4 linked regions of the Homo sapiens genome follow. The protein of the gene in region 2 purifies or fractionates together with the protein of the main gene of each other region. This does not show direct contact. Each region holds a gene or a part of one and is shown on either strand. Other genes may lie near its edges.

Evidence for each region.
Region 1: the proteins of HMG20A (region 2) and PHF14 purify together in Homo sapiens (affinity purification with mass spectrometry; 4 studies listed by BioGRID and IntAct, with this or other methods). This does not show direct contact.
Region 3: the proteins of HMG20A (region 2) and GSE1 purify together in Homo sapiens (affinity purification with mass spectrometry; 3 studies listed by BioGRID and IntAct, with this or other methods). This does not show direct contact.
Region 4: the proteins of HMG20A (region 2) and PAWR purify together in Homo sapiens (affinity purification with mass spectrometry; 3 studies listed by BioGRID and IntAct, with this or other methods). This does not show direct contact.

Annotation. Positions count from the first base shown.
Region 1 is NC_000007.14:11,164,848-11,170,909, reverse strand, and holds the end of PHF14 (PHD finger protein 14), read right to left. Parts: intron 1,495-6,062; coding exon 1,420-1,494; 3' UTR 1,292-1,419; downstream 1-1,291. UniProt on the Homo sapiens protein: Histone-binding protein. Binds preferentially to unmodified histone H3 but can also bind to a lesser extent to histone H3 trimethylated at 'Lys-9' (H3K9me3) as well as to histone H3 monomethylated at 'Lys-27' (H3K27ac) and trimethylated at 'Lys-27' (H3K27me3).
Region 2 is NC_000015.10:77,415,805-77,424,684, reverse strand, and holds the start of HMG20A (high mobility group protein 20A), read right to left. Parts: upstream 3,798-8,880; 5' UTR 3,681-3,797; intron 1-3,680. UniProt on the Homo sapiens protein: Plays a role in neuronal differentiation as chromatin-associated protein. Acts as inhibitor of HMG20B. Overcomes the repressive effects of the neuronal silencer REST and induces the activation of neuronal-specific genes.
Region 3 is NC_000016.10:85,658,322-85,665,321, reverse strand, and holds part of GSE1 (genetic suppressor element 1), read right to left. Parts: intron 5,945-7,000; exon of another isoform or gene 5,647-5,944; intron 4,177-5,646; coding exon 3,557-4,176; intron 2,342-3,556; coding exon 2,229-2,341; intron 1,979-2,228; coding exon 1,708-1,978; intron 308-1,707; coding exon 194-307; intron 1-193.
Region 4 is NC_000012.12:79,680,102-79,688,916, reverse strand, and holds part of PAWR (PRKC apoptosis WT1 regulator protein), read left to right. Parts: intron 1-8,815. UniProt on the Homo sapiens protein: Pro-apoptotic protein capable of selectively inducing apoptosis in cancer cells, sensitizing the cells to diverse apoptotic stimuli and causing regression of tumors in animal models.

The sequences.
Region 1 (6,062 bases), on a different chromosome or scaffold from region 2:
TGATAATTAAGTGGCATGACACGTTAAACATTTAGCATAGTACCTGTAACATGTTAGCTTTTATGTGAATCATGTATTATTTCTTCTTTTTAAAAGTAAAACTACTGATATGACCCAAATCTATGTGAATGTGGGTATTTTGAAATAAATTGATGTGGGAAAAGTGTCAAATTAATTTTTATATTTGCCTATTGCAAAGGCTCCCTGCAGACTCTGAACTGCCATCTCAACCTTTTCTTTGGCTTAAAGTCTTTGCTCCAAAATTCATCCAGGGAATTCATTAGTCCAGGGATCCCATCTGTGGGCTCTAGTTGTTTTCCTGACATGCGTACTGAGATTATTTGAGACTATCCTTTTGATTTTTCTGTCTTAACTACTTGCAGTTTCCTCCATCTCAGCCCAATGTATCATAGCTGCCAGCGTATCCTGCTGTCACACATTTATTGGGCTTGTTGAATGCATATAATATGGCTTCAAGGCAAATACACTGATTCCACTCTCACATTCTCTTGCAAGCCTCCCAAAGCTCTGCCTCTCATTTTAAGAAACTCTGCCTTAAATAATCAAACAAAGACATCTGCCAAAAACACTTGGCTCTGCAAATAGCAAGCAGATTCATTGCTCTTCCTGTCATTGGCAAATGGCAGCTTGGAAATTAGAACCGGGGAGAGTAAAGAGGCTGGTTACTGAGAACTCTGATAAAGACAGGGGACAGGTGAATTTTGAAAAATTTCTAAGCCAAAGAAATACATAAAAGAACTATTCTTGAAATGTCCAGGAATAGTGTGTGGGACCTTGCACACAGCAGGTCCTTAGTAAATGTTTTATAAATTATAAATCATGGCATTACTTCTGCCAGAGACCGTCAAATTATCATTTCTTTTTAGTCTTTCCCTGCAGTCCTAGAGTATCGTGTAATATATAAATAGATGAAATCAGGAAACAGTATTTCTCCTTGTGGCATTGACTGGTTTTAACCATTTTCATGTGCAAGCATTCCCTGTTCATTTTTGAACTATGTTGGTTTTTCTTTATATTGATAATCAAAATTATGTTAAGGCCCTTAAAGAAGAACACAGAGTCTAGTAAGAAGAAAAAAGACTTTCAGAGGTTTTTTTTTTAGGTCATTTAAATGTGTTAACAGTTAGGTTACAAAAAAAATAACATTCTGTCTCTGTTCTCAAATTTGAGTTAAGAATTTTTCTCCTTTTAAAAACTTTTAAAGGTCCAGCTTTTGAATAAAAAAGTCGAAATTACTCTAAAATATACGAATTCCAAATACAAGCTCCTATTTCATTTTGAATGACTTTATTGAGAACATTTTGCAAATTAGATTTTACAATTTAACATTTTACAATTAGAAATTTTATCTGCTATTACATAAGCTGCAAACTTTTCAAAAACACTACAGAAAATCTTTTATTTCTTTGGATTTTTCTGTTCCATGTTGAGCTCCTGAGATATATTTTTTCTTTCAGCTTCATTTTCATCTTCCTGTGAAATAAATTTTAGAAAACATTAAAATATAAACTTTAGAGCATTTATCAGCTATACTTGACAGATTTTAACTGCATCTGTAGAACTATGAACTACTGTGATTCTAATAATCCTAAACACAAATGGTAAAATTATGTAACATTTAAATATTTGCAATAGGTGCTGTTTTATAGAACACATTAAAATTTTCTGTATGTTTTTAAAAGCAACCAATTTTAACAATGCCCTAAAAATTACTTTGGAAACACCTGCCACTGAAAAGTGTTCTTTGCAGGGGATGAGCTAGATATTTTTACTTCACTGCTTGACAAAAAACAATAAATTTAATTGCTAAGACACTTCATGTGCTCCAGCATGGCATTTTTTTGCCCCATCTAGTATACTTTCTTGACAGGTGTGCCAATTTTCCAATTACTTGTACCACCATATGTTATCTGAAGATCAGTGAGGTCTAAAATAGGAAGCATGTGCATGTCGGCTTAGAATGCTTACAATCTTCTACAGTTTCAATTCTAAGTGGTGGCCTCATAATTCATAGCAGGTTCCTGTGGAACATGGTGAATAGATGAAATGACATCATAATGTCTGCTTTCATAGAAATGAAGTGCATCTTGTGTTCAGTATTAAATGGTAACCTTCAAAGTATAAGCAATGAGAGTCTGGAAAAATATTTCATCTTACAATTTGTAACCCATCTCATCATACATGTTCTTTCAACACACCCAAGTACAAAACAGTCTTGCTTTCCTAATATTTCTGATTTATCATTTAAGATTATTTATTTTTATTAACTGACATAAAGGTACTCTTCTGAGTTAATTAAAGCATAAACATCAATTTAAGTATTTCTAGACAACAGTAATAATCATCAATATCATCAAACATACCACTCTATCTCTGTATCTGATGAAACCAAATTAAATCATTGAATTAAATAATTGTTGAACTCTACTTTGTGAATTGACTTTATAAAGTAAAAGCAAACCAAGGTATGCATATTTGTTTTCTATGACAAACTACATACTTGCCAGTAATGATTAAGGCGGGTGAAAAAAGCTTTTTTATATACTTTGTTTCTCTAAACTCAACGGAATCTGTGATTTAGACTTTGTTAACACTGGGAAAGTAGAGAAATTATCAATATTATCAACCAATCTGAATCATTATAGATATGTAGAACACCAGGAATGGGGTTTTGAATATCATTTTGGCAATGTAACTTTGATATATTTTTCCAAGTATGATAGCCACTGTTTGTCATTTCATTTTTTCCTTATTTTATCTCCAGTGAATAGATACATTAAGTTTGATTCTTGAAAATTTATTAATGAACATGTGTTTTCCACTTTTAGAAAAAAGTTCCTACAGATGACATTTCTTTTTTTTTTTTTTTGAGACGGACTCTTTCGCCCAGGCTGGAGTGCAGTGGCGCGATCTCTGCTCACTGCAAGCTCCGCCTCCCAGGTTCACGCCATTCTCCTGCCTCAGCCTCCCGAGTAGCTGGGACAGGCACCCACCACCACGCCCGGCTAATTTTTTGTATTTTTAGTAGAGACGGGGTTTCACCGTGTTAGCCAGGATGGTCTCGATCTCCTGACCTCGTGATCTGCCCCGCCTCAGCCTCCCAAAGTGCCGGGATTACAGGCGTGAGCCACTGCGCCCAGCCTAGAGATTACATTTTAACTACATTATAATAAAAAGTAAATCTTACTCTACACTTTCCCCTGTCTTCTTCAGGAGAGACACTGTTAGAAAGTGTTAAATCAGCAGGTACGGATGGCAAGAAATTTTTGATATGTAGCACTGAATTTGTCCATCTGTTCCTCAAAGGAAGGTTTTATCTTCTGTATCTTATACATTCCTACCATCTAACAGGACATACTTAGTATATAGTTGTAGTCCAATCAATATTTTCTGAACTATGTGAAACAGTGGAATAATGAACGAATAAAAGGTATGCCTGAATTAATACATAATTTGGAAAAGCACAATATTGTTCTTAACTATCGTAAATTAAGATTGCTAGTACTCACACTTCTAGCAATCTTAACTTACTATATAACAACAGTGAAAATAAAAATAAGCAAAAATGTTTGAAGCAACATGAGCCAAAACAGCCATTATCAAGCTCATACCCTTTAATTTATAAAAGAAAGATGGAGCCTTTATCACACGGACAGTCTACTAAGTTTCTCCACCGTATGACTTCCCGGTTTAACATGCTTGGCTATCTAGTTTTCTCTAGCAACCTTGCTGCTCTAAGTCAAAACACAAATGTAAAGACTTAATAACCCCAAGGACTAGGAGGTACTTATATACTTTATTTTCATATTTAACTATGGATATAAGCTATTGGAACATGGTTAAATGAAATAAAAATTTGCAACTTCCATTAATTTGAATATGTTTTAAATATATGGATAAGATATATATAGATATGCCAGTTAAGTAACATTCTTAATATAATGTTTGTCTTTTTGTTGTTGAATTTTTCTTAGAAATAAAGTACAGTTTATAAATGCATGCCTTCTAACACTGCCTGCTGTTCAGGACAGGTACATAACTGTTTCACACCTTTCTTTGTGCTGAGGATTTGTCTTAAAACATCTTGCCTTTTATGCTGTTAAGTCACTTATATAACAAATAAGAGCCAATCTCTTTCTTCCTTTTAGAAGGATAGCTGTAACCTAGGTGCAGAAAAGCATTATGAAGGGGTGAAAAAGGCATTCCACTCTAATTGCTAGAGTATAATATTAAAATTGCTATAACATTATCAAAATAACAGTAATAGATTTTATCATAAATAACATTAAAATTTGATCTAATAAAGCTCTAGGGAAGTCTTTTTGGAAATGCTAATTTATGTTTTTCACATTGCAGGTCAATTTTTGTAAGAATTTATACGCAGTTCCAGATTAATAAAAATCATTAAAGTAACTCAGACAGCAAATAAAATATAATTGATAAATGACTGCATAATAAATAAAATTGCAAAGGAAGCTTTTTACCAAAGCATTTCTTTACTACTGGATATTATAGGTAAGCAAAAATTTCTTCTGATATACAGGAGGGTTTTTTTTTTTCTCTCTGCTGAGATAAGACATCTGTTTGTTTCCCAATGAAAGAAGACCCTGGCTACATGGATCATTTTCTTAGTGACAGCCCTGACAAGTTTGACATTTGTTTCATGAAGTGTTCTGAAACAATCGTAAAGAAAATGTATCCTTTGAGGCTACTGGAAAGTAGACAGGCTTACCTCTTAATGTTTAAACTTGTTAATTCATACTCTAAAAAAATACACTGACTATAACAACTTTGCAGATCTGCTAGTTATATGTGAAATTTCAAGAATGTGCACTCAATTAACAGTAACACCTGTAATATCAAATGACAAAATTTGGTTCCTTAGCCTTGCTCTTTTTACACGGACAGAATTGTAGTGAGAATGGTAATTTCTAGGCACAGATGGACCATTTAATAATGGGCTGATACTCCAGGTGGCAATATGAGACTGAGTTATTCTAACAGAGAAATTAAGTAAACACACTGCCATGTTTATCTTATCACTAAATAAAACTTGCAAGATTTTGCTTAAATGTTAGTCAGCTTGCACTATCAATTTGTGATAGAGGAGACCCTCGGTTTTTCTTTATTTATAAATGTGATTTAGTTCTCATGATAGTTCAAATAATTGATGCCAATTAATAAAACCTATCCATTCTTTTCCTTCCTCTTAGGACGTAACCAACTCCTAACAATGGCCAACTATTTTAGCATCTGGAATTTATATCACTCAGGTAATACCTGGATACAAATTACACTCTATGAGTACAGATAACTTTGTTTACCTTGTAGACTGCCAAGTTTAAAAGATTTCTTAAACTCTTGTAATCCTTTATATAAAAGGATTACACAAAGAGGCAACTCTCCCTATTCTTTATATCTTTATAGATGTTGATGTAAGTACCTTTATAATGGAGAAACATGGCAAACAACACCTTAACCAAATGGTCAAGGTTAATATCACCAATAATATATATTAACACCCTGATACGATGTATTAAAAACGGCACATCACCTCTGGTTTGTGGTATCCTTCCCAACAGGGTATAACCTAATTCTAATCTGAGAAAACATCAGATAAACCCTCTACAATATAATTAAACAGTAGTCTTCAAAATGTCAAGGTCGGCCGGCTACAGTGGCTCACGCCTGTAATCCCAGCACTTTGGGAGGCCGAGGCAGGCGGATCACAAGGTCAAGAGACCGAGACTATCCTGGCCAACATGGTGAAACCCCGTCTCTACTAAAAATACAATTATTCGCTGGGTGTGGTGGCGGGCGCCTATAGTCCCAGCTACTCGGGAGGCTGAGGCAGGAGAATCGCTTGAACCCAGGAGGTGGAGGCTGCAGTGAGCGGAGATCGCGCCACTGCACTGCAGCCTGGGCAATTGAGCGAGACTCCGTCTCAAAAAAAAAAGAATGTCAAGGTTATGAATGACAAGACTTGGAACTATCACAGACCACAGGAGACTATGGGGACATGATGACTGAATGCAGTGAGG
Region 2 (8,880 bases):
GATAGGGGGACAAGGCTGAAGCTCAGTCAGTCTACCACTGCATCCCATACTGTGGGGAAAATGTAAAGCTTAAAACAGACATGTGGGCAAATCACAATAGCCAGAGTAGCAGAAGCAAGATTGGGGGTAAGATAATTGCATTAATGAAGCTTCTGGCACCAGGCATTGGACCAGGAGATTTACATACAACATTCTGATTCCACCAAACAACCCCATTTGGATTTAGGAAAACTGAGGCTTAGGGAGGTCAAATAAATTGCTCATGGTTACCAAGCTAGTAAGCTCAGCCAGTAAAATGCAGAGACCAGTGCTGAATTTGGGCCTATCTGATCCCATATTTTCCCCACTGTTCACTCTCATTTGTTTTCACAATACAAAAGAAGCTAGAATGGTAGGAAAATGATACATGTATCAATGAAAGGGACTGCATATTTAACACAGGGGCTTCTATGGTCTGGAGAAAAATTAGGCTGAAACATTCAAATCTGGGTTTAGAATGGCTTAGAGATTAAGACCAGGAGAGATCAAGTTTAGGGCTGCTTCTTTACCCAGTCTGAACAACGATCATAACATAGATCTTATTTAGGAATACCAAGGGAGCAAAATTCTAGTTTTAATTTGTAAATTAGAGAGTAAACTACAGTAGAATATGAATATTTGGCCGTATTTACTGTATTCAAAGTCCTGAGAACAGTGACTGGCATATAGTAGACACTCTAAACTTTTGCTTAAATAATGAAAAGTCACGTAAAGGGTATTCTCATTTGAATACCTGTGAAGGCTATGAAATAGAGACAGCAAAGCAGTAAGGTGAAAAACCATTCAGGTTCTTAAGATACTTTCTTTAATCCTCAACCCTACGGCAAAAACAACAACAAAAACAAACCACCACCAAAACGACAAACAAGGAAAGCAACAGTTGCAAAACATTAGCCTGATTTTACAAAGTAAAGTAGATGAAAGAATGAAAAGACACTTCTGTATTATGTATAACATCTCTGTGGATAATCTAATTTCAGTCAGATGGAATCCAGAATTGTGACCTACGGTTTTAATATTTCAAACTGCTGTGAGCAGTGTATCCAATGACTGTCTTTGGAAAAGAAAATGGTTATCTAATCCAAGTATTTGAAAAAAAGATTTGACACTTTCTTTGTTACATATATGGCAAGTAATGGAATGAAATCTCAAATTCATTAACTTGAAGTAACAGTACATGTACAAAAATATTAATTCTTTAAATTTTGATACTATATTTCTATTAAACATGCAAAGAAAACTGCACAAAGGGCATTAAGAAAAAAAAACCTTTGGAGGACAGCAAGCCTCTCTAAAGAAACATTTTTAAAAAGAATAAAAACAGGTTCTATGGACCTTCTCTCTCTATTTTTCACAAGCTTTTCTAATATTTCTTCTTTGATGGAACCAATGAATAACTGCCACTTATCACAAAATACCTTCTTTCAGATAGGTATTTTATATATTGCTTTCTTCTAAACAGATAGTTCTTCAAGCTGCTCAAGTCTTTCAGCTGCAACAATTTTTCTTATTTCTATTATACTGTATTTCTTCCATGGAGTACCATAAAGACCAATTTAATAAAGACAGTTTCCAAAAGGCAATATTACTCTATCTCAATCAGTATTTTAACATGATATTCTCTATTTTTTTCATTTAGTTCTACAATCTTTCCATACTTCAATAATTCCTAACACTACAGTTTCATTTGTCAGGGTGACCATATTATATTTTCTTCTATATTACATTAATATAGAAGATAGTGAACACTTCTTCTTTAATCAATTAATTCTTACTTCGGGCAGTCTACATGTTCCTAACCTATTAATAACCACAAAGACAATGTTTTGTCTTGCTTTTTCAGTCAACTACTGCAGCAATCGTGTGGTCTTTCAAAATATAAATCATACTTGATTTTAGGGTCTTAGATTCTTTTTTAAAAGTGACCACAGAAGATTAAAACATGTATTTTTTTTTACTGTAATATTTGGTTTAAAACATATTTTCTAATGAACCCTAACCCAAACAGCTATTTATTTATTTATCTATTTTTGAGACGGAGTCTCACTGTCGCCCAGGCTGGAGTGCAGTGGAGCGATCTTGGCTCACTGCAACCTCCGCCTCCCGGGTTCAAGCAATTCTCCTGCCTCAGCCTCCTGAGTAGCTGGGACTACAGGCGCACGCCACCACGCCCAGCTAATTTTTGTATTTTTAGTAGAGACGGGGTTTCACCATGCTGGCCAGGCTGGTCTCGAACTCCTGACCTCGTGATCTGCCCGCCTAGGCCTCCCAAAGTGCTGTGATTACAGGCGTGACCAAACAGCTTTTTAAAAAAACTATTATAGAATTAAAATAATCGCAGAGTCTGAGGCTAGATTAAGTACAATCCCAAAAGAAAAAGTACACAGGCCTTATTACTTCAAAAATTCTTGCAAGACAATACAGTTCTAGGTTCACTGATATATATACTAAAATTACTAACATTCAGATTTCACAAAGTAAGCTTCAAATAGATTGATTCCTTCAATACACAGACACACACCCTTCTAAGTATTGTGTTATCTGACAACAGAACCAAGGAATCAAAATTATTGAGTGTTTATTACCGCCTCACATATAGTTTATTAAAAATGAGCTACTGAAAACCAGAAAGTTCTTATTGACCTTTTGTCCTTTGTGAGCCAACTTTTTCCTGTTTAGAATCTGAGCTGAGTCTCATGACCCTTGCTTTATACTTTAAAACCACAAAGAACAGATACCATTTAAAAATCAGTGATGAATTAAATTACAAAGGAGGAAAATGTAATAAAATACAACTTTCAAAAATGTTACGTGTAAGCTACACATAAGAATTTTTAAGGCTGAAGAAGCTGTTCTCAGGCACAGGGCAAAACCTGTAGCCCAAAATCAACAGTCCTAATAATTTAAGATGTCAATTTTATCAGTTAAGGTAACCTCAAATTTGAGTACTTCAGTGTGATACTTTCATTCTGCTAAGATGAAAATGCCCCAGATTTTATGTAAAATATTCAGTCCCCTAAATAAAAAGTTATCTCCTTAAAAGAGAAGCTAGATTTCCTGTTGCATGTCAAGGCAGAGGGCACCACACTTCACCCAGCCAAGGCTGGACTTGAGTAGGGGTGCAGGTGTTGGCAATTCATCAGTCACACAAGCTATGTCGTCTTGCAAAGGTGCATAGAGATTTTTAACAAGGGCTTTCGAATTCTTTGAAGAAAACACAGACAATTTTGCTGGGGAGGAAATGCTCCATATTCCACGTGGAAGCAAACTCATAAATTCTGACTGCAGGTTGGTGTTCAGCACAACTTGGAATAATCTAACTTTTCACATAAAACACAATCCCCAAGCTGCAAGATAATGTCTCCGCGAATGGCACCAAGCACCACCTTTTCAAGCCCTCATCAGCACTGGAAGTGGGTCGGACACCCCCAAACCATCACCACCCCCCCACAGGAAGTGAGGGTGTCCCCCCTCCCCAGGACGGCCTTCCTCCCCTCCCCCAACCGGAAGTTGAGGCGCCCCCATTCAGCCGGCCTCCAACTGAGACAAACCAGTACCACCACCACCAAAAGAGGGGTGATCTTCAAGGGGTGAAGGGCATCTCGACTGGGGCCACCCCCAAGCTCGCCTTGCTTACTGACCTGCTGACGACAGGGGCAGGAAGGGGCCTAGGGCCAAAAGAAAGTCCCTTCCACAGAGGACAATTCCCTCAGCCCCTCTCAATCGCCTTCACTTCACGCACTCGTCGTCTCACAGCTGGACAAAAATTCTTCCGCAGCACTTTATTTTGGTGTCCTTTCCTTTTCTTTACCTAATCTCTTAACCACCTTTCCACAGGTAACTCCTCTTACCGCATAGCATTTACAATTGCTCCGGTGAGAAGAAAAATGAAATATTTTCCACGGTACCTTCACAAAAATGAAGGGATTATTTTGCCCCAATGCGGCGAAGGACTACGTGGTTACGCAAGGTGAGCCTTATTTTCGTGGAGGTTTCTGGGAGATGTAGTTTTTTTTTTTTTATTGCGAAGGCCCGCAGAAAGTAGAAGAACTGAAATTGGTCATGACTACATATTAGCGTCCTCGAAAACATATTCTGTATTCGATGACGGCTGACCTAGCGGGCCCCGACGCCCAAATGGGCCCAGACTCCCCTGGTCTTTTCCTCTGCGGCTTAATCGAACCCAAATTTTCCCTCACGCGGGCCCAAGGTCTCGGCAGCCCCGCCCCTTGTCTTAGCCCCGCCCTCCGCAGCCAATCAGGCACCCTTTAGGTCTCGTCCTCTGGAGGTTGGAAGGCAGAGAGGAGGGGCCTGGCGGTGACTCCTCCCGCTGGGGCTGAGGGAGACCTGGGAGACGACCGGGGCCCGTGAGCGCGCGCGTGCTCACGGCTCCAGGAGCGCGGCGAGCGGGCGAGGGCGCGCGCGGAGGGGCGGCGCGCGGGGCCGAGAGGAGGCGGGCAGGCTGGTGGGCTGGGCGGGCGGCGAGCGGCCGGGAGCGCGCGGTGGACTCGGCCGCGGCGAGTAGTTAGTTAGTTGTTGTTAGTCAGTGTCAGTTGCTCGGCGGCGGCGGCCGTGGTCACCAGGAAGGGGACGGGACGGACGGTGATGGTGGTCGCCGCGGCGGCGTGTGCGCCCCTCAGGTAACAGCGGCCCGGCTGTCCGCGTCCGCTCGGTTGTCTTCTACTCACGCGCCGTCTGTGGGACCAGGGTTGCCGCGGGTTGAGGGCGCTGACCCGGGGGAATCCGGGCGGGGCGGCGCGGGTTCTGGGTGGCGGCGCGGGTTCTGGGTGGCGCCGCCGCCGGGGCTCTGGCGGCCGGTGCGTCCCGCCCGGCGCGGGCTCTAGCTCCCCGGCCACCCCCGCGCCCCGCCGGTGCCGCGCGCCCCCTGCCGCCCCTGCCCCCTCCCTCGGCGGCGGCCCCGGGAGCGCGACGCCCCCCAGAGGAAGGAAAGTTGGGACCTGCCGCGAGGGACGCCCCCGGGCGCGGCTGGGAGGTTGCGGGGGAAAGTGAAGCCTGGAGGAGCTGGACGCGGGGAGGCCGGGGCAGGAGGGGCTTCTCTGGCTCCTGCCGGGTCCACACGGTCAGCCCGCTCCCGCACCCGGGAGCATCGGCGCAGCCTCGCCGGCAGCGTCGGGACGGAGCCGGGTGGCTCCCTGCCTGCTCCCTTCGCGCCGCGGCTGGGGAGCCCGCGAACGTGTGGGCTGGCGGGGTCGTTTGGGGGTTGTGAGTGGTTCGGCTGCTCAGTTTTTTTCTTTTCTGCCCTTTGACCCATCCGTTCTTGCAACTTTTCTTTCCTCCTTCGATGGGGACTTGCCGTCTGAACCGCGTCTGCCCCCTCCCCTCTCGTCGCATGCACCATCCGTCTGGGAGCTTGATTTCGTTTTTTCCTCCTTTGGCTACGTTAAAGATTGCTGAGAGCACCGGGAGAGACCCTCCTCCCCCGCCTGCCTCTGGCCTGTTAAATGTTACTTTTTGCGATTCGTTGTTTTTTAAAGATCCAAGTTCAGGAATTTGAGAGCTGTGGAATGGAGTTATTGGAAGGCTGACGTTGAGGGGGTAGTGATGAGTTAGAGGAAAACTATGATTTCATCTTTATTGGCCTTGCTATAGAAAACCTAATTGATTTTTTTTCTGCCTCTGTTGAATGTGGTAAGATCATACGTTGAATTAAATACTTAGAGACTTACATAAAAGACTATTTTTAGGTCATTGGATGATGTACGTGAACAGCTTTTCACCTGAATTGGGATTGCCTTGAGGATTCTGTTTTGGGGCCTACTTACTGATTTTTGTTCAGCCACAGCGTCTTTTTTTTTCCCCCGATAAATGAAGTGATGTAGTGATGTGTATAGTCAGAGAACCCATATTGCTCTCTGCAGTGTGGAAGTGAAAAACGTGAATTATCCACCGGGGTAAAACTTTCCATGAGCAATCTTGGATACTCACTTCATGATGGCTTCTCTCGTAATCTCAGAGCATTTCTAGATAGCTCAATTCACTGACGACCCTAATTACTTTCTGACTTGCCTGGGACTTCTCTTTGGTGACTTATTTAGTAAACTGTAATGGCAGATATGGTACATTTTCTTGGCTTCAAAGTTGAGGGTTATAGCCTCAGCCCAGAGATGAACAATGGAAGTAGAAGTCATAGCATTGCTAGTGAATTTTGGATATGACCAACTCACAAACTATGTGAAAAAACAAACATCCCCTTTTCATTGCTGTCGGGGGGGAAAGGGAAATATTTTATCATGTCTTTATTTTGGATTCTCTAACATGACTACATTATGTGGGAAAAAATGTCAAATTATTTTCTTTAAGGCTTTTTAATGTATGTTCCTTCTTTTCCCTCACTACCCCCCATCTCCTGTCCCAACTTAGAGGCTAAAATTTATGTGTGGCTGTGTTCTAGGGTTGGAAGAGAAGTGTTTTGGTGAAAGAAAAAGATAAGATCACTTTGAACTATTATGATACCTCAACTATTCGTTTTATCCAGTTGATAGTATACAGAAACTTTCACAATAATGTTTGTAGCCTATTAACATTCAAAATTCATTTTTAAGAGTCTACCCTGAAGGCCCATGAAGAAATAATGCCACTTCATAACTGTTTGCCGACAATCACATTAAAAAATATGTTCCTGGAATGCATTATACGTGTACTCATATAAACATTTATCTTTGTACATTTATGGTAATGTAAATATTTAAGTCTGAGAGCTTAAAAACTTTTATTTGCTTATTTGCATACATGTTTTTCAACATCTAGCAGTGCCAACCATATTTGCCAAATAAGCATCAGCTATAAATTCATGCTTTGGCACATTTCATATAATAACTCTTCTAAATTGTTCCGTGGTGAAGCATCATGAGATTAGCATTTGCTTCATGAGAGAGATTTGTTGTTCTTTTTAACTGTACTGATGTGCTGTTTAAGTGGAACGGGTGCTGGGCCCTAGCCATTTGTGTTGATACCTGCCAAATCATACCCTTTTGTTGGATGGGTTGTTTAAGTAATTTAGTAACCAAACTGTGGCCCCTGGCATGCCAAGTGTGAGTACAAGGCTCCATATCAGTGTTGCAAATCCCTGTTTTCAGTGTAAGAGGCAGATGTGTGTGATGAGCGTTATTCTGTCATTTGCTGATCTCTTTACTGTGATTCCTACCTCTTGCCCCCCTCCCCCCCCGCCCCGCATCCCCCCACCCCACTCTCCTTCCTAGTCCTTTCATTACTAAAGCTCCTGGTACTTTCTAGGTTCCCTCAAGGCTGGTTTGTTTTCCTTAGTGAAGTAGAAATCCTAGTAACCTTCAGGCCAGGAATAGATAGTTTACATTTGTTTGACAAATGTTTGAGTACCTTTTAAGTGCCAGGCATGGTGGTAGGTAGGACCTGAGTATTATAGAATATGAGATTCCTTTTTGCAAGGAGTTTACAGTTGAGGAGGAGAAGATAGGTGATAACCAATAATTATAGTATGACAGGGGCATGCACACATTCCTATGGATGGAAGCACAGAGGAGGGGTAGCTGACTCAGACTTCGGGGGATGGGTGGAGGGTGTCTAGAATGCATCTTAGAGTGTTACCTGAGCTAATCTTCAATAATAGGTAAGAGTTAACTAGGTCCAGAAAGAGGGAAAGTACATCTTATACCAGTGCTGTCCTATAAAATTTAATACAAGCCACAAATATGTTACATATACAATTTAAAATTTTCTAGTAACCAAATTTTAAAAAGTAAAAAGTGAAATTAATTTTAATAATATAAACTCAGTATATCCAAAATATCATTTCAACATGCATTCAGTATAAAAAGTAATATTGAAATATGACATTTCCATTTTCATACTGTCTTCAGAATCTGGTGCATAATTTTCTACTGTTTTCAGAATCTGGTGTGTAATTTACACTTATAGCACATCTCAATTTGGACAACTACATTCACATACTCAATAGCTGCAGGTGAGTGGACAGCAGCAGCACAGCTTTAGAACAGGGGTGGATGAAGTAATAAGCCAAATCAATGATTGTCTTGTGAACCAAGTTAATAACTTTAACTTAATTCCAAAAGTTGCGGGGATTTAGTGGGGAAAAAAAATTATGCTGTGGTAGAATCAGATTTGTATTTTAGACCTGTCATTTTGACAGTGAAGTGAATATTGAATTAGAGAGGGACAAAACTGGAAGCAAGGACCAGTTAGGAAGCTATTCCTGGTGAGAAATGATGAAGAGTGTAGAAGAGGGAGTGGCTCTATGAGAGATTTAGGAAGTATTATTAACGGGACAGGATAAATCTATTTAGATTATAGAATTGAGCAAGATTGAAGATTTTGGATGATTCCTACATTTCTGTTGTGATCCGCTGAGTAGATTGGGCAAGCAGCTGAAGAGAAGCCAACCATCTGTGCCAGACAGACCAAAGATGAAAAAAGGAAATAGAGATTTGTCATGGAAGCTGAGGGAGAATATTATTTCAAGGGCTAGGAGTGGTCAACACTGTATCCTGCCTCCAAAAGGAAAAGTAAGATAAAGACCTAATGAAGTCTCTGAGACTTGGTGATTAGGATGTCTTTTATAACTTCAGCTAGAGCACTTAGCTACATTGTAATGCATGGGGGTGGGTGTTGAAAAGTGAATGACAACTGTAAGTGTAGCTAATTGAGAGGGGTACAATGTTTTCAACAAAGGACTCTGAAGGAGTCTTTAAGCAGGGGGAGATACTTGGGATTTAGAGAATCTTGGACATTCTTAATGTGAGCCTGGAAAGAGCCACTGGAGAGGAGAAACTGAAGAAGAGTGTATATGTGTGTGTTTGGTGGGCGTGGGAGACTGGCTGGTGGATG
Region 3 (7,000 bases), on a different chromosome or scaffold from region 2:
CGCCTTCAAACTGACGTTCCGTCCCAATGACTGTCACAACTGTGCAAGAATCGTACGCTGGTACAAGAATGGAAGAAGACAGCCTGCAGGAGGCCACATTCACAATGATGAAGACCTCGAGTGGTCGCCTCTGAGCCTGGGCAGCCCATGGGATGGTCCTGGGTGGTGGCAGGTGGGGCTATCCTTCCCTTACCACTCAGGGAGACGGCAGGACTGTCCCTCGGAGAGTTTGTCAAGGAGTCGGCCACTGCTGCTGACAGTGCCTTCTGCTTCATGGCACGGAGCATTTCAACAAGTCTCTCTTTGTCTATGAGAAAAGCAGCCTGAGATTAACGAGCCAGTTGCATCATTTTTTGGAGAGAAGGACAGCGGGATTCTAGCCGAGCCTTGAGGGGCAGGCAAAGCACTAAAGCCCGAAAAACCAAAAGCAGGTGTGATGGGGCAGGCCCAGTTGAAAGGAAGCAACCATCTCAAAGCGAGCCCAGATTGCTCTCGGCATCCACTACACAATGTCCTAGACGTGCTCCAAAGACAGCTGTCCGTGCGGTGACGACGCCTCTGTGAATCACTGTGCCCACGGACCTCGGTGGTGACGTGCGAGGATGTATTCTTATTTCAAGTCAGACAAGGTGGCCCCAACACAAAGAAACACCCCAAAGACCCAGGCCTGGCCTCTGAGGCAGGGTGCCTTCTCCCCCACTCCTACCATTACTGCCACTTCCTGAAGGGGAAAGATGACCCCACGATGTTCCACGCAGCAGATCCCTGATGTCACCCGGCCCTTCTTGACTGTGAAACTCAAGGGCTGCATCGCCCTTAATTTTTTTTCCTCCAAAAATTCAGGGAAAAAGATGCTTTGTATCTAGGGAACTGGGCTGGCAATCAACACGTCACTAGCCCGCTAAGAGAAAGGGAAAACTACTGACTGGTTAAAAGGAGAAAGTAAACGGCTACACCCTGATCAACACCTTGAAGCTGCTCAAGGTCCAAGAAGTAACTCTGCTTTCCTTCGACTTTCTCCCAGAGAGGAGGCCAGGGGCCCACGAGGACTTGAAAGCGTGCGTAAGGGGCAGGGCCAGGAACGTCAACATCTGGGCACCAAGCCAGCCTGCGCTGCAGGCCAAGGAAGCCAAAACCCTGAGCAGGTGTTGTGGCTGCGTTGTTTCTTCTGCTATATGGATTCGAGCCCAGAGGGTCTGTCCCAATGTGGCCCTGTGTGGCCAGACTGAACTGGAAGCATCTTTCAAGGCAAGCCATCTGCTCAGTGTGTGCTGCCCTGCTTGGCAGCCCTTCCCCAGGCCTCCGGCCACCAGGACACAACACCCAGCAGACCACCTAAGCGGTCCAGCAAGAGGAAAAGCCTGCAGCAGACAAACCTGGAACACCTGGCACCTCCCCTCACGCCTGGTGGTCACTGGAGCACTCGGCTCAAAGAGCGCCTTCTCGGGCGCTGGGAGATGGATGAGTGACATGGGTAGTCCTCAGGTCAAGATGGTGGGGCTCTCAGAGCAAAGCCTGTCAGGTAAGGCTGCTATGGAGGGCTTGTAAGAACAGAGAGGCTGTTCCCGGGAGCCGGGAGGAGTAAAGGGGCAGCCTCAGGCTCAGTGATCGCAGATCCTGCCTGGAGTCCACCGGCCCCACCTGCTGCTTCAGAAACCCACTTCCACCCCAGTGAGCCCCCACCTTCCTACCCAGGCGAGGCCCTACCTTTCCTCTTCTCAGCGCTGATGTGGGTCAGGTTGAAGATGGTCAGGAACTTCTTCTTTTCTTCGAAGTTGGGACTGTTGTTCATCTCATCAGGGCTGTAGCGGGTAGACAGCGCCAGTCTCGGTGAAGGCGTCTGCCGCTTGCTCTGAATTGTTGGGGGCGACGGGCTTCTCTCTCGCAGCATCCTCCGCCGCTTCCTCCGCTTCTGGGCCACCAATTCCTCCTTCTGCTGTTGGGTGGTCAAGCCAAAAAGTTGCAAAAACTCTAGCTTCTAGATTGGGAAAGAAAACAAATGAGTTTGAAGCCACTGGCAGTGGTATGCTTGCACTGTCCCGGGGTCCCCTCCTGGGGTCCTCGAAGTGTGGGCCGTAGCTGGCTGCGCCTGGTGGGAGAAGAGCTTCATGGGGCGAACCCGCCAGGACTTCGGAGGAACCTAGCAACAGTGGGGTGGACTGCAGGGTGTGGACGCTAGGAACGAGAGCCCAGCCCAGAGCATGTCCGTGGGGAGGAGAGCCCAGTACCTCAGAGGACGTGTCCAGTTTGAGGGGCGGCTGCTCGGCCACGCAACGGAGGTGGGCCCTGACCTCCTCCTCATCGCTCTCGTCGTAAGAGTCATCGAGGTCGTAGTAGTACCCTGATGGAGAAATGGTTGTATTCAGCCAGACAAAGAGCCTTCATCTGTCCAGTGGACATGCCCGCAGGGCCTCATGTGTGCAGAGCACCTATCAGGCCAGGCCTGCTGGCACCTGAACACCCTGAAGGCCAGTTCCTTTCAACCGAGGTGGAAACCAACATTAACCCAGTCCTGGGGCTTTGCAGGACCGCAGACACCAGGCTTCCCTGGGATCCATGGCTCCCAGTAGCTGGGTGGTCCCCTGGGCTGACAAGACCTCCCTCCTCCCCCTGGCAGGGAACCATTCATCACACAGGCCTGGGGCTGTGTCCACGGCAACACAGGGCTGCTTGTGCACATGCACTCCCCCATGCTGTGGCCATCTGAGTCCATCTCCTGGGAGGAGACAGGCACACACAGGCCTGAGCTCTCTAAGACACAGAGAACAATAGCAGAGCCCCTGCCCAGGGGCGCTGGGGTATCTCCCTCCTCCTTTACAAAGTGAGTAGGGGAGAGAAATTTGGCTGGGCCCTCCATCCAGCCTAGACCAACAACCAGGAAGACCGCCTGTGCCCCAGCTTCTATTGAAGAGGAGGCTGAGCTCAGCACTGGACAGGACCTGAGTGTTCAGCATCAGGAAGAAAACTGGGCTGGAGCCCCTGCTCCCCTCTGCACACTCTCGCCTGCTCGGTTGCTCTTCCTGGCTCTCTGGAGAACTCAGGGAGCCGCTGGCTGAGGACGCCCCACCCCCAAGCAGAAATAAGAATGAAGTGCCTGACCTCCTACCCTGACCCGGGGCAGTGCCAGCCGCCGCGTCCTCAACCCCTGACCCACCTGCTGCAGCTCGTGGCAGCGGCCCTGTATGTGGAGCCCCCGCTGAGCCCAGGCCGGCTCTCCTGTTATGCTGCACTATTAATATTTAAAACTATCTTATTAGCCTCCGCTCATCACTTATTCATCATGCTTGTCTGCGGAACTATCTTCACAGGCGGGCTTTGATTTGGCTTTTTGGGACAATTTGCATCGAGGCAGGACAGGCACGGGGACTAGGGTCTGCCTCCCCTACGAGGGTGTCATGCTGCTACAAAGAAGCCAGTGCACTTGCCACCTGGGGCCTGGGACTACCCCAGGCAAAAAGCAGGAGTGGACGGAGAGGGGCAGGTGGCTGGCATGCAGGCTCCCCATCCCCACTGTGCGGCTCTCCCTGAGCAGCTCGGGGCCCGCGGGGAGGCAGACCTTTCTCCTGGGCCTCCCGCCGCCTGCGCTCCTCCAGGTCCAGCTTGCTGACCAGCCTCCGGCGCTGCTGCAGGAACTCATCATAGATGTAGGCAGGGTCGGGGGCCCGTGGCACTGGGGGCCGGTAGGGCGAGCCAGGCTTCAGGGGTCCGCTGAGCTCCCCGAAGGTGGCCGCCTGTGGGAGGGAGGCCCGCTGCTGGCCCAGGATGGTCTGGGTGGACTTCTCGAGCTCAGCCAGGAAGGGCCCGGGCCCGGGCAGGAAGGGCTGGTGCTCCAGGCTCCCTCCCTCTCGTGGTGGCGGCGGAGGTGGCTGGTACTTGTCCAGAGGGGCAGGCTCACGCTTCCGTGGCCCCTCCTCTGCTTTCTCCGGGCAGAAGACCCGCTCCACCTTCACCAGCGGCACGGCTGCCTGGCGGCTGGGCTCAAATGCAGCCGGGTGGCTGTGCAGAGAGTGGCTTTCGGCCCGCCGCGTCTCCAAGGTGTTGTCCATCAGGGACACGGGGTTCCAGAGGGCCGTGGGTGCAGCATGGAGCTGGGGCTTGGGCGAAATCAGAGGTGGTGGCCCCCCAAAGTGCTGCGGAGGGTCACGGCCACCTGGCTCGTGACGGTTTGGTCCTGGCCTAGGGAGTGAAACCAACCCTTCAGTCAGGGAGAAAAGACCCTTCAGTCATCCACAGGCTTCCCTGGCTGCCTGCCGCTCCTAAGATGACACAGATGGCGCAGCCCCTTAGAGAGCCAGTGCCAACAGGGCTGCAGGGAGGGGACACACACTCCACCCCAAGGATCATTGTTTCTGTCTTTCATTTTCTCTTTTCCTTTCTTTTCTTTAAAGACTCGGCCGGGCGCAGTGGCTCATCCCTGTAATCCCAGCACTTTGGGAGGCCGAGGAGGGTGGATCACAAGGTCAGCAGTTTGAGACCAGCCTGGCCAACATGGTGAAACCCCATCTCTACTAAAAAATACAAAAATTAGCCAGGCATGGTGGCGGGTGCCTGTAATCCCAGCTACTCCAGAGGCTGAGGCAGGAGAACTGCTTGAACCCAGGAGGCAGACGTTGCAGTGAGCTGAGACCGTGCCATTGCACTCCAGCCTAGGCGACAGAGCAAGACTCCGTCTCAAAAAAAACAAAAAAAAAGACTCACTCTGTCACCCAGGCAGGAGTGCAGTGGGGCAAGCTCAGCTCACTGCAACCTCCGCCTACCAGGTTCAAGCGCTTCTCCAGCTTCAGCCTCCCGAGTAGCTGGGATTACAGGCGTGTGCCACCATGCCCAGCTACTAATTTTTCCTATTTAGTAGAGATAGGGTTTCACCAAGTTGGCCAGACTGCTCTCGAATTCCTGACCTCAAGTGATCCACCTGCCTTGGCCTCCCGAAGTGCTGGGATTACAGGAGTGAGCCACTGTGCCCGGCCCTCCAACACCTGCGGCAGGTGTGTGCAGGCTGCTCCAAGAGGATAGGGAGGCTCCCAGCCTAAGCTGCTAGGGAAGGCAGAGACCCTCTCAGGCCTGGGACAGATCCAGTTTCGGTCGATTTTCCCACCTGCTTGCGTGAATTCCCCTAAGGGCAAGCGCTCATCCGCACTTTCCATGGGGAAACCCACTCTATATACTGGGCTGTGGCCCTGCCACCAGCACCCTCTCCTCCTGCTGTGCCTTGTAGGGACACATGACACAGGGCAGGCTGGCCACCTTCACAGGGCAGTACTCCTCCCTCCCCACTGTCCCCGCAGGCAGCCACAAGACAACCTTCCAGTGTCTGCCCAGCCAGAGCCAAACCCACTGTGAAATGAAGATCCTCCCAGTCAGGATGGGGCCTGTGCCGAGACTGCCCCCCAGTGGCCCCTGTCACAACTGCAGCGACCCCACTGCCCAAGTGGCCTGTGGCAGAGGCCTCAAAGTGTCTTCAAGGACCCAGGCTAAGGCCTGCTGAGGCAGGGAGGGAAAGAAGGGATTTCTAACATCAGAACCCTTCCATTAAACAAGAAGCTGCCCCTTAGTTACACTAAATGGCTTGTTTCCTCAGTGCAATTAAAACAAGATTTAATCTACTCACAGGGCTATTTTTAGTATTGTTTTTCCAGCTTATTTTTAAGAGATGGGTCTCGCTGTGTTACCCAGGCTGGAGTGCAGTGGCTATTTACAGGAGCAATCCCACTACTGATCAGCGCGGGAGTTTTGACATGCTCCATTTCCGACCTGCCCTGGTTCACCCCTCCTTAGGCAACCTGGTGGTCCCCCGCTCCCAGGAGGTCACCATATTTGTGCTGGACTTAGCTGGGACACCTAGTGGGTATAGTACACTACAGCCGAGAACTCCCGGGCTCAAGCGATCATCCCATCTCAGCCTCCAGAGTAGTTGGGCCTACAGGCATGTGTCACTGTGCCTGGCTATCTTTCTTTTTTTTAAAGGGAGATATACTCACAGGATGTCTGGACCAATACTGTGCAGAGACCCTGGGCAAAGCTTGAGGGGAAGAAAGAGGCAGAGGCCACAGCAGGCACACGGCCGGGCTCAGGGATCTCTAGCCTGCCCCGGGAGCCCTGTTTAAACACAGCCACCAAGGCTCTCCCTAGTTATTCCAGACTCCAGGCCAAGGGACAAATCCGACGCTGCTGTCCCTCTTAGCAGAATACAACAGGGAACCACAGGAAGAAGCTGTGTCCTTAAGTAAACAGCAAGGGAATGAAACCTGCAGGAGAATAAATATTTCATGCGCCACACCAAGCACTGAACAGTTTTCTAGCTTGGAGCATGAGGGCCCTGTCAGGCCCCCAAGTTCACAATGCTGTAAGGCCACGTGTGCAGCCGGCCACAGGGGAACCACCGCAGCCAGGGGAGGCCAGGCCCTGCTTCCCATCATGCCCCAGGTCCGGATGGGGCAGCTACACTGGCTGGAAGCAGTCCATGGGTGGGCAAAGTCACAACACCTGTGCTGGGGCCCTGGGGAGCCCTGAGGAAGAAGATGCCTACAGGAGTCAGGGCACCCTGATGTTATCAGGCCATGCCAGGTAGGAGCTGGCTGCCCTCAGTCCTCTGGGTAGTAGGCAAGGCTGAGCCTGAGAGGCCTCAGGGACGGGGGCTGGGAGAGGCAGAAGGGATCTCACTTCGGCCGTGCCGGGCAGTGTGAGCCACAGGGAGACTTAGCTGTGGCCTGGTGACAGTCACTCCCAGTCATCCCTGATCAGCGGGGGCGCATTCCCTCGCTGCCCTACTGGATAACGGAGGCAGGCAGAAGGGAGGACAGATTTTAAACCACCAACACGCTTCCGTCCCAGAGCCCAAGGGTTTCTTATCCCAGGACAGCATCACAGCCTTGAGAGCTGGAAAGATGCTCAGAAATCATCCTACCCACCCTCCTTTGTGGACAGTTGAGGAAAGTGAGGCTCAGGGAACAGAATCAGTGTCCCTAGGTCCCTGAGCTGGGCCTGGAGCAGAGCTATGGAA
Region 4 (8,815 bases), on a different chromosome or scaffold from region 2:
TCTACCAGAAACAAGACAAAACAATCTCAAACAAGTTTTGATTACTTTGATAGTAGCTCATGGATTTGAGGAAGTGGTTCAACTACCTTGTTTCACCTAAAATAGTTGCATCTTTTTCTCATTGACTGTTTAGCTTTCACTTTTTCTTCTCCTGGCTTTCTAATTTTACTCAACTTTAATTGTGGTTTAAGTAGAAGCATTTGCAATAAGTTAGGGTGTATATTAAATATACCTAAATTTTTAGTATTATGATTTCCATACCTGTTAAATCATAGTGTGTCTTTGTAGGACGTATTTATATGAGCGTTTCAGAGATTTTTATCAGCCAGCAAAACTGTCCTCTGCGGTTTGCTACTTGCACAAAAGATCTGTTATTCATTAAATTGCTTTAGAAGGAATTCGTAAGAGTGGTAATCAAATTTCTAGGTGTTTTTTTTTTTTTTTTTTTTAGTTAAAAATATGAAGATTAAGGGGAAATTGAAGACAAGGCTTTGGAAAAGCTACATTCCTCAACTTGATTTTTAAAAGTAGCTGATGATCCAAATAAAAGAATTTGTCATTTTCAATCTTTTCCTCATTGTTCATCTGACAGCGGTCTTATTTTGGGAAATATCTTGGCAGATGTTAAACTTCACTTTTTTTCTGGCTGCATGTGCTAAAATTATTTTTCAAGTACTTTTTTTTTTTTTAAACAAGGGTAATGTTTACTGGGGGAAGTAAGTAGAGTGTATCTTGTGAGATCCTAAGAAACATCTTTTGTTAATACCCCTGCTTTGAGTAAGAGAACATAGTGCTGAGAATGTAGATGACTTCCCACTACAATGGAGTCTAATACTCTGGAATGTTTTTCGTTTGGGTGTTGGCAACTCCTAAATTTAATCTTCCCTGAAAACAAACAAACCAAGGGTACCTTTTTTTTTGTCTGTAGAGTTTGAACCTTTTTATTGAATAGGGAATTGAGGACTGCTTTCTTTTAGTGGTAACTATGTCTCTGTCCGTTTCAAGCTGCAGGACCCAACAAAACAGTAATGCTTCACTACAGTATCTAATTAACAGACATACTTCTTGAGCGCCTCCTCCTCATATTTTCTTATTTTTCAAAACAACTTATGTATTTCAGATTATTTTAATAGTGGTAAAATATATGATGCAAAACTTTAAAGCTGAGCCATTTTCATGTGTTTATATTGTTGCTTTTTTAGAATTGTGCCATTTCTCCTGGTAGTTTCAACATTGAGAATACCAGTTGCTGTGGAGTTTCTTGTGTAATATTTAATTTAGCACCCCTGTTTTAAAAAGTCATACATATTTTGCAAATTTTTCGGGTATGAAAATAAGTAAAAAGATGAAAATGACCAATCTCTTTATATTCAAAAGTAGACTTTATTTTATCTAATGTCGAGTAAGACTCTTATTTTCAGACATGATTCCCAACCAAGTCTGTATTAGTAGATTAACATGTAGTTCATATGTAGAGATCTGGTTTTAATGGTGGATAAACATTAAGTTCCTTCAAGGAAGTACTTATGAAACATCTGTGTGATACATTTATTGTGACTTTCATTACCTCACTTTACTAGTTATAGAGTGTATATATAATACTGTTATAAAGGTATCTGACAGCAGCTAAAGATACCAGAATTGACTAGAAGATAGTTATAGGCAAGGAACCAGGTCAAAAACCGAAACTAGCTATTTGGGAGGTAGGAAACTGGGTGGTTACTGCATGTGATGGCTGAAGTCGATCTATCCAGAGCTTCTTTAATGAGATAAAATTTACTAAGAGTTTTAAGAAAAATATCCTTTTTTCTAAATTTTTACATTTTCTATTTTTTGGTAGTAATTCACCTGAACTGGGTAATTTGGACGTGGCATACTTCTTGCCAGTAATTTTTGTGTGTGTTTATCAGATCAGTCAAATGTGTATTACATACCTGTTAAAGACACTATCCTTAAGCAGTGGAGAAAATAAGAACACGGCAGTGTATATTCTCAAGGAGCAAGGCTATAATCTAGGAAGAAGGATAAGGCATAATTACATGAAAAAATTTAAGTACTGAGTTAACAGTTTAAAAGCCATCTTAATGAAGCATGTAACTATTTATTGGAAATAGTGTGTGTTTAAAAGGGGGAGATGATTGGGCTGGGAGAAGCTATTGAGGATGAGAATCTTGACCTGAGTCTTAAACTTTTCAGTACTTGTATATTTTTACATATGTTCTCACATATGTACATGTATACATAATTGTTTGTATAGTATATTAAGTACCGACATGCAGTGGTTCTTAACTTGAGCAGCACATTGATAGCATGTTAGGATCTTTAAAAAAATGTTTGCTCATGCTAATTCAATTCCGTGCCCTCTTTGTCCCTTCACCCCACCCTGTAATATTGAATGGGTCTGGGATGGATCCCAGGCATTAATATTTTTATAAGTTCCCCATTTGATTCAAATGTGAGTCAGTGATAACAACTGTTGGACTGCAGTCTGGGTATAGAAATGAATAGGACATAAGCCTTGCCCACGAGGTGCTCTCAGGTAATATAAGGAAATGTGAAAAGTAGAGTAGTAAGTATAGCTTAGTGCCTGAGCAGGGTACCTAACCCAGGGAGGAGGAGTGATAGTTGAAGAAAGCTTCCTAGACAGTTACATACTTGTTTCCAGGGGGTTTGTGAAGTTACTGCCATTGAGTAGGGTTGTGTGAATGGGTTAATGGAGATGGGTGCCATAGAAAATGTAATCTTTGAATAGGTAGAGGTGGCACTGAAGTTTTGGTTTAAGTATAAAAGTTAACATATACAGTATTTAAAACTTCTGTTTTAAAATAGTGGTTGGCTAAAGTGGTTTAGCTTTAGTGGTTGGCTAAAGTGCTTTATGTACTGAAGTTCACAGCAATCTCATGTGGTAGTTACACTGTTTATCACTATTTCCAGAGGAGAAAATGAAGACTTAGAGCTTAAATGATTCAAGATCACATAGAAAGTAACTGATAGAGCAATATTTTAAACATTTTTGTGTATTTTGTGTGTATGTATATATCTAGGGAAAGGGGAGTTTTTAAAAATTAACCTACTTTTCATTATTCAGCATATTTCCCTAGATTTTTACATAACTTTTTATTAAAGATTATCTTAAGTAATTTAAACATCTGAATGAGGAAAACAGTAAAGGTATGGAATTGAATAGAATTTCAGGTCAAATTTGTGGACTCAGAGATTGCCTCTGACCCTCTAACCTATAGAGTGGCAAAATTTTGAACACCAGGCTCTCGGCAAAACGTAAATTTATTTTTGGCTAGTGGTCAGAAAATGTGAATCTTTGATTTTACCTAAGTGATATATTGTTTTTCTATCAAGATGGGGTCATGACACCTACTCCATAGTTTGAACTCGTGTTGGTGAAAGGGAAGATAAAGGAGCATTTAACATATAGAAAGCACTTTTAAGTGAACACAGGTTAGGTCATAATTATTTAGTATGTTTATTGAACATTATATATAGGACAAGTTCCACTTAGTAAACTTTATAAATCCAGGTGGATTAAGAAATGCCTTTTGTTATTCCCATTATGCTCCAGACTGTCTACCTTTCTGTGTGATGAGTCAGGAGAGAAACTAATAATGACTCAGAGTTGGAGAAAATTTGATTCGTGAATGGGGTAGATATAGTGTAAACACTGAGACTGTTTAGTGTAAAACCTGGGCTATTAGCCCAGCTTTCCTAAATGTTTGAGCTCACTGGTAAAGTAAATTGAAATTTTAATATTATCAGGATTTGTACTGAGTTGTCTGAGCTGGGATGTCATTTCTCATAAAAATAATAATTACATAATTAAAGTAGATGACATTTATGGTGTGCTTATTAAGTGCCAGGCACTGTTCTAAGCACTTGACATACATTAGTGCATTTAATTCTCACCACAGCCCTATGGGAAAATGGGGAAGAGAAGGTATGTTACTTGCTTCAGGTCATACATGTAGTGAGAAGTAGATTAGAGATAGTTTGCACTCACAGTCTTGTGCGTAATAAACCATCTTACTACACTTCAGTGTATTACATACTGTATACCTAGTTTAAGAAATACAAAGAATATTTTAGTGTTAAATTGTTAGTATATGACTATGGAATTTAAAAATAGCCCTATTTATAGAACATAGATGAAGTGAGACTTTAATGGAAAATTTTGAGAACAAATGAATATATAAACACTGGCATTAAAATTCTTATTTAAAATCATTATCAAGCTAGTGGCCTGTTTATACTATTTTCTTTGTTTTTTTCTTTCTTTCTTTTTTTTTTGAGGTGGAGTCTTGCTCTGTTGCCCAGGCTGGAGTACAGTGGCATGTGGTGTGATCTCAGCTCACTGCAGCCTCCACCTCCCGGGTTCAAGCAATTCTCCTGCGTCAGTCTCCCAAGTAGCTGGGACTGCAGGTGTGCACCACCATGCCTGGCTAATTTTTGTATTTTTAGTAGAGATGGTGTTTCGCCATGTTGGCCAGGCTGCTCTCAAACTTCCAGCCTCAAGTGATCTACCCGCCTCAGCCTCCCAAAGTGCTTGGATTACAGGTGGGAGCTACCGTACCAAGCCTATCTATGCTATTTATTATTTCTGCATTTTTTTTTTAGCACCTATGATGTGTGCCAGAAAATAATTATGCCATTTAATAGCAAGGTTGATATAATGTTTTATAAGTATAAAATTATTGGCAAATATTAGGGTTTGACATTTTCTCTGTGCTTTTTTTCCTTTTTTAAAAATTGAGATATAATTCACATACAATAAAATTTACCCTTTTAAAGTGTACAGTTCAGTGGTTTTTTAGTATTCACACGGTGTGCTCTTAAGTGCTTTTATATTTTCATCTTTATTTTTCATTATGTTCTTAGAACCTCTGGTCCCTAAATTTTAGCTTTCCTTTCAGTAAAGTGATATGGTATTCAAATTATGAGAAGCCATTAACTTAAAATAATTTAATATCAGCCTTTCCCACTTTACAGAGAAAATGAAATTATGGTAGGATCTCCTCAATTTTAAGTTTCTTAAAACTTGGGCACCTACTACCATTTGTTTGCAGTGGAGTTTAGTATAATAGGTATTTATTAGGTTTGTGCAAAAGTAATCACAGTTTTTGCCATTGAAAGTAATGGCACCAGCCTAATAGTTGGATTACTTTTGCAAAAACCTAACAATTTAACTGAGTGTAATACTTTCACCTTAATAAAACTTTTACATATCTTTCATGGAGATCTGCAAAGCTCTGTCATCTAAACATTTGGGAACATTGATTCAGAGTTAAAAAAAAAAAAAAAAGGAGTTTCCACTGCTTACCACTTTAGTTACAGTACTAGAATCAGTGTCCTAAAAGATGTTTCTGGGGGGACCATCTCTACCAGTATCACTTTTGCCATTTATTTAAAATCAGATTTCTGGAATCCACCCCAGTCTGGGTTAGGGATGTTATCTGAGAGTCTGCATTTTAACTTGAGTGATTTTGGTACACACTAAAGTTTGGGAAGAACTAACTTAAATACCCTGTACTAGTTTACTGATCCGTCAAATGAAATGAATGCTGGTTATCTAACAGGATTGTTACATGAATTAAATAAAATGATGTTTGTGAAAATGTTATAAAAATGCCCAAATCAGAAATTGTAGTTACTGTATAGGTTAATTTCCTATGAGGTTGTTAAACATTTTCATTTTTTTCTTCCAATTTAAAACTGTGCATATTTTAACAGACAGGTTGAGCTACTTGGAAATTCAAAGTACTTTAAACATTTATGTAATGTCACATACTTAGTGCAAAATGCTCTGTCTGCTTTGCCTCTTTTCCAGAATTTAGACAAGTCTAGACTACAGAAACACCTCAAATAGTTAATGCGTAATTAGAACTTTACTTTCACTCATTTTTAATTTTTACATATCTTTAAGTGAAAGCATATACTTGTGTTTATAAATGTATTTGATAATTAGCAACTCAAACTTTTAAAGCATTGTGTTTGCCATCTTATCAAACTACTATCAAGTGCAAACATTTTTCCCATTGATTACAAATCTTACATGTTAGACCTATAGGCATCCTTGACTGGCAATTGATTTTGAACATATTTGGTTAACTGCTGAGTCAACTTTCTGTTTAGATCTTAGGCAAATGTGTTATAGCCATATACCTACATGTATAGAATTGAGCCTCAGCCACCTGTTACATTCTCCTTAGGCTATGTAAAAATACACAGGGCACCATGGCTGAACGACATTGTAGGAATATTTAAATTCTAAAAGCAGCAAAATCACACACTTCAAAGGTAAAAAGAGCTCCAGCAAGTTCAAATCTTAGCATGTCAGTTGACTAGTAAAATGTTTATTCTGTGATAGTTTTTGGAGATTTTGTCCAGCAAAATTTTGTGGGTCACAGTGTATTTTTCAATGATAGTCTCATTTATTTTAAGTAGTTGAAGAAATAGGGCAGTTGTATTCTGAAAATTAATATTTTGTTAGGTTTTGCTGAAGTGAACAGATAGGAGAGAATTTATATTGTGGATTACAATTCTGTGGCAGCTGAAACTTTGTTTTCAGGCTCTTCATAATAAATTCTGTGGGGCCAGGTGCCATAGCTCACACCTCTAATGCTACCACTTTGAGAAGCTAAGGTGGGAGAATCAATTGAGCCCAGGAGGTCGAGCCTGCAGTGAGCCGTGACTGCTCAACTGCACTACAGCCTGGGTGACAAAGTGAGACCCTGGCTCAGAAAAACTCAAACAAAACAAAACTCTAGGGGGACTAAGAGAATAGGATAAATAAACATAATAATATACAGTTTGAAATACAGAACTGAAACAGATGAAATTAACTTAAAAAGACATCTTTCAGACTAAGCTTATCTATGGTCATGTAAGCAAACTACTTAATATTTTAGAATTTGCAGGTTACATAAAGTATCAATTGATTTTCTATTATTTTGGAGTTTTTTCCAGAATATTTTTAGTAGTATTTAAAAAGAATGTAAATCTCAGAACAGAGTTAACATTCAGAAGATGGTGCTTGAGGAATAGGAATAAAAAGTACGATTGTATTAGCTGAAATAATCAAAGAAGTTACTTTTAGGTTTCAAATTCTTGAAAGACTTCTCCATATCCTATAATGTAAGCAAAAGTTGATGCAAATCAAATTTATGTAATCCTAATTTTTTTCTGCTAGTAGAAGTAATGTGTTAAAAAAAAGGCAGTGTGTTCACTGTAGTTCTCTCATGGAAATAAATCCAAGGAAAGGTAGAAAAACCTGTTATCTTATACATATTAATATTTGTGTTTCTATTCTTATTTTTTTGAATCTACTTGAGAAATGGAACCACACTATTGATTTGTGTGTATACTTAACCACTCATCATGAGTATTTTTATGATGTTATTCTATAACTTCAAAAATAGGGGTGGATGTGTATGTATCTTTTGTTGTATGTTTTTTAGAGACAGGGATCTTGCTTGTTCCCCAGGCTGCAGTACTATGGTGTGATGACTCAGCCTCAAACTCCTGGGCTCAAGTGATCCTCTTGCCTCAGCCTACCAAGCAGCTGAGAGTACAGGCATGAGCCACCATGTCCAGTTGGATGCATGTGTTTTGTGCTGTTTGATATTAAAATACTTAACCATTACTTCATTGGGAAAGGACCTTACTGCTTATCTGCCTTATTATGTGGCTTTTTGATTAGCCCATAAATAGTCTTAGATAAATAGCCCTTTCCTTTCCTTTCCTCCCCTCCCCTCCCCTCCCCACCCCTCCCCTCCCCTCCCTTCTTCTCCTTTTTTCTGAGACAGGATCTCTGTCACCCAGGCTCAGTGCAGTGGCACGATCATGGCTCACTGCAGACTCAACCTCCTGAGTTCAAGAGATCCTCCCACGTGAGCCTCCTGAGTAGCTGGGACTGCAGGCTTGCACCACCACATTGGGCTAATTTTTTAATTTGTTTGTAGAGATGGGGTCTCAGTATGTTGCTGGTCTTGAACTCCTACACGCAAATGCTTCTCTCACCTTGGCCTCTCAAAGTGTTGTTGGGATTACAGGTGTGAGCCACTCCACCTGGTCTATTTTTTTCTTTTCATATATTGTGTTTCCTGAAACATTGCTCAGGAAAAGTGTTTGTGCCATTGAAAGAGTCTCATAGGTTCAGATAATTGTGAAGGATGACCAGAGGTTTTTTCTTTTTTTAAACCTCTATAACCTTTGATTTCACTGGGAAGTTGGTGGTTGGAGCTGGAGTAATTATAAATGTATGTATGCTGTAGCTGAAATAAGTTCCTGAAACTCATCATGGTATGCAAAATTGTGCAGTAAAAACTGTAGGGCATATGTGAAAATGGAGTTTGGGGCATAACACTCAAAAACTTTGTCAATGGCATTTAAAAAGATAGAAACCTAATAAAAACTAGCAGTTTCACACATGTTAAATGCTTAATAAGTACATAAATACTACAACAAATATGACACTTTACTTTGAAAAATACCTAAACTTTTTGAAAAGTGTTAGAAGGATCCCAGCTTGTGAATTACTGTAAAATGGTAGGAGGAAGGTTATCTGAAATTGGAGTGAGAGTGTTACACCAGATGTGGATGGGTGTAGCTCATAACGTATGCAGTGAACTGACGTAACTGGCAGATGTTTGAGGTGTGTATGCATATATTTCTACGTGACTGGGTTGCAGTTATCTGTGCCTGCTGAGCATTTCTTGCATTTGAACATAAGCAAACACAAAATTAGTGTTATTCTCAACTTGTTCCCTAACATGTGTTCATATCAGTGGCATTGGGACAAATCCAT